Linked DNA regions of Homo sapiens. The protein of the gene in region 2 purifies or fractionates together with the protein of the main gene of each other region. This does not show direct contact. Each region holds a gene or a part of one and is shown on either strand. Other genes may lie near its edges.

What was found.
Region 1: the proteins of NR1I3 (region 2) and PPM1B purify together in Homo sapiens (affinity purification with mass spectrometry; 3 studies listed by BioGRID and IntAct, with this or other methods). This does not show direct contact.

Annotation. Positions count from the first base shown.
Region 1 is NC_000002.12:44,167,335-44,171,080, forward strand, and holds the start of PPM1B (protein phosphatase 1B), read left to right. Parts: upstream 1-1,540; 5' UTR 1,541-1,940; intron 1,941-3,746.
Region 2 is NC_000001.11:161,236,098-161,239,843, reverse strand, and holds the start of NR1I3 (nuclear receptor subfamily 1 group I member 3), read left to right. Parts: upstream 1-1,640; 5' UTR 1,641-1,783; coding exon of another isoform or gene 1,784-1,803; intron 1,804-3,245; 5' UTR 3,246-3,278; coding exon 3,279-3,385; intron 3,386-3,746. UniProt on the Homo sapiens protein: Binds and transactivates the retinoic acid response elements that control expression of the retinoic acid receptor beta 2 and alcohol dehydrogenase 3 genes.

The DNA.
Region 1 (3,746 bases), on a different chromosome or scaffold from region 2:
ATGGCAGCATCGTCTAATTTGATAGCTGGAGGAGTCATGTCCACTTTCCCCATCGGCCTGTTAAACCCCTATCATTCATTCTTGACTCATCCTGTGTCTTTGTGAAGCCTTTCTTGGTAAACCTATGCACAAGGAAGACCCTTTATGTCGTCACCAGCCCTTGTGCATGTTTCAATTGTAGTACCTATCATCTTGTACTGCGATTGCCTAATTTATTTTTGTATCTCCAGTTCTACATACAGTACCTGGCAAACAGTAGGCGCTCAATAACTGCGAAATGAACAAGTCCATGTCAAGAGACTAGGCTGGGAGTTTTAATATCAATGCCGACTGAGAAACAAAATACGGAAATGTCAAGGGCTGGTATAAAAATAATCTCTAATAGCACAAAATCCTCCTGAAGGGAACACCTGTCCCACTTTCTCACGTTGCTTTCCAGGTTCTTCCGACACCCCAATTTCCCGCCCACTCTTCTCCCTCCGGGGTACAGGTCAGGCAGGTATCCCAGCTCGGCGGCTCTGATAGGTCGGCGATGATTTCATTGTTAGGGAACATCCGGGCCTTTCCCCTCCCCGCAACACCTCCCCAGAGCCCGGCCTTCCCAGTTTCCCACTCTCGCCTGCGCCCCACCCGCGGCTGAAGCAAAACAACCGCCTCTCCCCTGCCCACTTCTTGTCCTCGTCTGAGTCGTCCCTTCCCGTCTCCACGCCGAAGAGAGGCGTTTAGATCCTCCAATGAGGGCCTAGGAGGACTTTCTTAGCCAATCAGTAGCCAAGCCCCTGCAATTCCGGGTGGGACCAGGCGTCCACACCTATAGCTGGACTGCTCGTTGGTCCCTTATGGCGCTTCTTTTACGCGAGGCTTAGAGGTCAAATACAAGGGGGCACGGTCCTCACAGAACGGAAAGGATCCGTACAGACTCTCCGGGTTTGACCGTTTTCTAGGACGAACCAATCGCTTTCCAGATACTTCCCCGCCTTTTGCGCGTTCATTTGAAAAAAGCCGGTGTGACGGACTTGGAAATTGGCTCAGTGACTGACCCGCAAGAAAGCCAGTGACTGGGGGTTCGGATCACGAGTTGGACCAATAAGAAAAGACAATCGCTGGGGCCGGGGCTTTGCTAGGAGGAGCGCAGGTGGGCGTTATTTGATTGACGGAGGGCTCTACTTATGGCTGGTAGCGGGGGCTGGTCCCTGACGTTCGGGAGGTAGGACCTAGCGGAGGCGGGGCCGAATAAAGTAAATGGTAATAAAGGGTTGGGTCTCACTTAGTGGGCGGTGTTTGATGGACAGCTGACCTTGCCTATTGAAAGTAGCCACTGATGCCCAATGGGAAATTAGAAACCCAGAGGCGGGGCCGGGTGGGCGGGGTAAACGAAGTACGGAGGTGCCGAGGGAGCAGCACGGGGAGGGGGAGCGGTGATTGACAAGACTCCCAGCAAACCGGGGGCCGTGAGAGGGCGCGCGGCATCCCAGTGGGTGGCAGCTGGAGGCGGGGCACCCTGAGGGGCGGGGAAGGACTAGGGTGCGGGGAGGGGGTTGCAAAAGGAGCCGAGCGGCTTCTGCTCAATGGCGGAAAAGCCGCCGGTGCTCTGACGGCCTCGTTCCCCTAGCAGTTGCGGGGGAGTTTCCTGCCGGCGCGGCTGGAGTCTCTGATTCTCAGGGTTCGGTGGTTGGAAGATGCTCCAGAGAGACGAGGCTGCGGCGGAGGAGGTGGCGGCGGCCGAATCGGCAACGGCGCTAGGGTGGAGAGAAGGCGGCATCGGCGGCGGCGGCGGCGTGAGGGGCCGGGCGGTGTAAACAGCCCCGGAGGCGGCGGTCGAGACCCCGAGGGGGAAGCGGCGGCTGAGTCAGGGTCGCGCCTCCGTTGGAAACTTGGGCTGAGTACCGCGGCGGGCGCGAGCGAGGCGCCCTAGACATCTTCTCCCTCCCTTGCCTCAGGTAAGGCCGCCCGGCACCCCGCCGGAGGGGAAGCGGCTGACCGGCCGCGCCGCCGAGGCCCCGGGCCCTGGGCAGGTTTTCGCGGTGCTGCCGAGCCGCGGCCGGGGCCTCTGTCCTTCCGAATCCTCGCTGCTTTCCCTGCTGCCGCGGAGCCTAGGCAGGGGAACGCCGGGCCTGGCTCTCGGGTATAGGCCCCTTCCCCGGCCGCCGCCTCCGCTGGGCTGAGGTCTGGGAGAGGCGCAGGGAGAGAATGGGAGTTTGCTGGAACGCCTGGAAGCTGACTGATTCTCTCTTCCCTCCGCTTCAGTCTGCAAGCATCTCTTTCACACGAAAGCACTGGGGCTACCCCAAGCCTTGGCGCTTCTCTTCCTGGTGCATGCCCTGTTTGAAAACACTATCTTTTACCATTCGTTTCCTCATCAGCTTCTGCCCTACTCTGCGCTCCACTTCACTTCCTTGTTAAATCGTCTTTCTCTGCTGTCTATGCGTTCTACCCTCGCCTTCCCTCCTTAGTGGCTTTAAATTGTGTGTTTCTCTTTTCTTCGTACCCCGGCATCTCTTGCCTGTCTTCCCTAGCACCATCCTTTTCGGATGTCATTCCTAACAGTGAAGTTCTTAATTGAAACTGCCACTTATTGTCAGTACCCCAAATCTACCGGAGCCCCATTAAGAGTATAGACTGACTAGCCATATGTGGTAAATCAGTTTTTCATAGTTTAAGCCTAACAACCTTGAAAAAATTGTATTATTAAACGTAAAGTGTGAAAATAACACCGAAAATAATTTTTTAAATGAAGGACTCAGTGAGTGTTGGAAATAGTTATTTCTTCATTTTTTAAACTTGCATGACCTCTCATATCAGATTTAGCAGATCTGGGACGTTTGCCCATCTTATTCGGCAAAAAAAGTGCTTCTTAGGCGTTTGATAGCAGCCCAAATTCATCAATATTCAATTTCTTCTAAGAACAACTTGAAAACTTTTTTAAAAAGAGACGTTAATAACTGGGAAGTTGTTTTGATAGTCACAGTTAAAGAGCTTTTAAAATAGGCTCCACATGTTTAATGTATCAAAATAAAGTTGGCAGGCATGTTGTAAAAGGATTATTTAGGAATTTGAGTAGTCTTAGTGTTATGTAGCTATTTTAGGAAAAACATTCTTTTTCTGTTAACAAACGTTTACAACTACGGTGATGTGAGAATTACTGAGGCTTACTGTGGGATTAACACAGGAACTGTCTTTATTTGAGCTACTGCATGGATGAAGAAGTGGTAAATTGTTCAGAGTAGACAGTGTAAGTCACAGTATGTTCTAGGAGATGGAGAAACATGCCATGGACGCTGAATGTTAATAGATGTTATTTCATTTACTTTCTCTGTTGTGCAATAGCAAAGTTCCTATTGTTGGCCTACTTTTAAATGGGGCATTTCTAAGTAAATAGTGAGACAAGTTATTCTAATTATTATGATAGTCTTTTCCAAGTGTACAGGCCTTTTAAAAATATAGTTGAAGTAATGGTAATTTTTTAAGGAAATGTTTTTGTAGGTCTGCCAAATGGACAGTGTGTTGTTCTAATCGAAATTTTAAAATTAAGTATTTAGAACAGAATATTTTAGTCCACACATTTTCAGGGATAATCTTTATTTTGTGCTTCTTCTCTCAATGCCTTCTTTGTCTTTTTTTTTGTCTTAATGGTTGTTGTGTTTTCGCCTCTTCATTTGTTTTTGCTCTCATGAAGTCTTACAACAGTTTCTGCAGTGGTTCTTTTTGTTGCTGTATATTAGCACGAGTATTTTTATTTGAGCTTT
Region 2 (3,746 bases):
CAAGCATCTGTGCTCTCTGGAACTCAGTTTATTTCAAAATACAAAGTTATGCATAGTTAGATGCTATACCACTTGAGATTAGGGGTTCTACCAACTCATTCTGGTAACCTAAACAAGGATCTTTTTAACTCAGTCTCTCTCTCTGTGTGTGTGTGTGTGTGTGTGTGTGTGTGTATGACTCCAGCCTGCACTTGGGGTTTTAACTCATCTTTAGAGAAACATTAATTATAATTTAATGCAAATGAAGAAGCAGAAGACATAATAGCAAAACAAAGAAAAATAGGCCGGGCACAGTAGCTATTATTACAGGTGCACGCCTGTAATCCCAGCACTTTGGGAGGCCGAGGCGGGCGGATCACGAGGTCAGGAGTCCGAGACCAGCCTGGTCAACATAAACCCCAGCTCTACTAAAAGTACAAAAATTAGCTGGGTGTGGTCGCTCTGTCACCCAGGCTGGAGTGCAGTGCTGCGATCTCGGCTCACTGCAACCTCTGCCTCCCGGGTTCAAGTAATTCTCCTGCCTCAGCCTTCCACGTAGCTAGGAATACTAGCGTGCGCCACCATGCCTGGCTAATTTTTGTATTTTTAGTAAAGACAGGGTTTCACCACGTTGGCCAGATCTCTTGATCTCATGATCTGCCCAACTCGGCCTCCCAAAGTGCTGGGATTACAGGCATGAGCCACCCCGCCCAGCCAAAAAAAAAATATTTTTTAAAAATAGCACTTTATTATTATTATTATTAGAGATAGGGTCTTGCTATGTTGCCCAGGTTGGATTCAAACTCCTGGGCTCAAACCATTCTCTCCCTGTCTCCAGAGTAGGGGGATGTACAGGGCATGTCACTGTGCCCTGTGGTCACTCTGATTTGATTCTCAGCCCTCCCTAGTTAGGAAGTGAGAGGGCTCTTTCCGTAAGCTCTTACTTAGATCGTAGTCTCTCTCTCTCTCTCTTTTTTTTTTTTTTTTAGACGGAGTCTCACTTGTTCTGTGCCCAGGCTGGAGTTCAGTGGCATGATCTCAGTTCACTGCAACCTCCGCCTCCCGAGTTCAAGCAGTCCTCCCACCTCAGCCTCCCAATTAGCTGGGATTACAAGTATGTGCCATCATGCCCAGCTAATTTTTGTATTTTTAGTAAAGACAGGGTTTCACCATGTTATCCAAGCTGGTCTCGAACTACTGACCTCAAGTAACCTGCCTGCCTCAGCCTCCCAAAGTTCTGGGATTACAGGTGTGAGCCACCGTGCCCAGCCCCTAGTCTCTTAAAAACTTTTTTTGGGGGAGCCTTGTGGAACTGTCACACCTCTTCTTTTAGTACTGACATACTGCGTGTGAAAAAGCTTGCTCTGTCTGTCTGCCTGTCTCTCTCTCTCTCTCTCTCTTCCCAGCTTGTTCAGGATCTCTGTACACAGAAGGCTGCAGATGTAGCCTTAAACTCATCAACAGGGAAAATCTCGATGAGTCTAATAAGCAGCAGCTTCCAATGAGTCACAAGGTTCCCACCCACTGGAGTCCCTCCCCGTGTGCCACCAACCAGCACTTTTGTCATGCTGGGAAAACCTCCCACCCAGGCCTTTGCCCTGAGTCCAGGGTCTGTGCCCTAACCCCACAGTCACTGAGAGCAACTGGAGGCCACATAAAACAGACATCTCTTGTTTTCCAGATACTACGGGTCATAATCCCTAACTCCAATCACTGGCAACTCCTGAGATCAGAGGAAAACCAGCAACAGCGTGGGAGTTTGGGGAGAGGCATTCCATACCAGATTCTGTGGCCTGCAGGTGACATGCTGCCTAAGAGAAGCAGGTAGGAAATCTGTTGGGGACCAAAGACTAAATGTAATAAAATACAGATAATGCTGGGGGCTAGGCATAGTGGCTCACGTGTGTCATTCCAGCACTTTGGGAGGCCAAGGTGGGGGGATCGCTTGAGCCCAGGAGTTCAAGACCAACCTGGGTTACATAACAGACCCCATCTCTACAAAAAAGAAAGAAAAGAGGCCAGGCGCGGGAGCTCATGCCTGTAATCCCAGCACTTTGGGAAGCCAAGGTGGGAGGATTGATCACTTGAAGTCAGGAATTTGTTTTTTTGTTTTTTTGTTTTTTGTTTTGTTTTTTTGGGTTTTTTTTGAGATGGAGTCTCGCTCTGTCGCCCAAGCTGGAGTGCAGTGGCGCAATCTCGGCTCGCTGCAACCTCTGCCTCCCAGGTTGAAGCGATTCTCCTGCCTCAGCCTCCCAAATAGCTGGGACTACAGGCACATGCCACGATGCCCAGCTAATTTTTGTATTTTTAGTAGAGACGGGGTTTCACCATGATGGCCAGGATGGTCTCGATCTCATGACCTGGTGATCCGCCCACCTCGGCCTCCCAAAGTGCTGGAATTACAGGCATGAGACACTGCACCAGGCCTAAGTCAGGAATTTGAAACCAGCCTGGCCAATATGGTGAAACCCCATCTCTACTAAAAATAAAAAATTAGCTGGGCATGGTGGCGGGCACCTTAATCCCAGCTACTCAGGAGGCGGAGGCATGAGAATCACTTGAATCTGGGAGGCGGAGGTTGTAGCGAGCCAAGATTGCACCACTGCCCTCCAGCCTGGGTGACAGAGCAAGACTCAATTTCAGGGAAAAAAAAAAAAAGGAAAGAAAGGAATAAGAGAGGGAGGGAGGAAGGAAGGAAGGAAAAGAAAAAAATATCCTGGTGTGGTGGTGTGTACCTATAGTTCCAGCTACTCAGGAGGTTGAGGCAGGAGGATCCCTTGAGCCCAGGAGTGTGAGGTTACATTGAACTATGATGCACTCCAGCCTAGGCAACACTAGGCAACAGAGTAAGACTCTATCTCAAAAAACAGAACAAACAAATAAACAAAAAAAAATAAACAAAAAAACCAACCTGGGCAACATGGCAAAACCCCATCTCTACAAAAAAAATAAATAAATAAATAAACAAAAATTAGCTGGACATGGTGGTCTGGACCTGTAGTCCCTGCTACTCAGGAGGCTGAAGTGGAGGATTGCTTGAGCCCAGGAGGCAGAGGTTGCAATGAGCAGAGATCTAGCCTAGGTGACAGAGCAAGAACTTGTGTCAGAAAAAAAAGAAAAAGAAAAAGAAAAAGAAAACCACAAAAGATAACGCCAGGGATCAAGTCAAGGGCATGTTTGGTTTGGTTTGGAAAGAGACTCTCTAGAAGGGACAGAAAAGGGTCAAGGGTGGCCCAAAACTGACTGCTGACCCCTCCTACATTCAGGAGTCTGTGACAGCCACCCCAACACGTGACGTCATGGCCAGTAGGGAAGATGAGCTGAGGAACTGTGTGGTATGTGGGGACCAAGCCACAGGCTACCACTTTAATGCGCTGACTTGTGAGGGCTGCAAGGGTTTCTTCAGGTGAGAGTCTCCTCCCCAATGGAAATAGCCCTCCAAACCAAACTCCCTATTAGTCAGCCTTTACACCCTCGCTGGTGCCCAAGCCTGTCCAGCTACATTACTCCTTTATCTTAGAGTCTAACTACCCTGTGGCTGGCATCCTACATCTTGCCAAACACATCACTGTATAAACTGGTGGCATAACAGAGGGAAAGCTGAATGTTTGTCTGATGGACACAGCCCATTAGTCAAGAGCATTTATTATGTACCCACTGCCTGTGAAGCACCTAGCTAGTACTACATCAACTAGGCTTTCTGGAGTGATCCTGTGTTGCCATGGAAATGCTTGAGATGTGTTGGATACTATCCACCCCTGGGGACC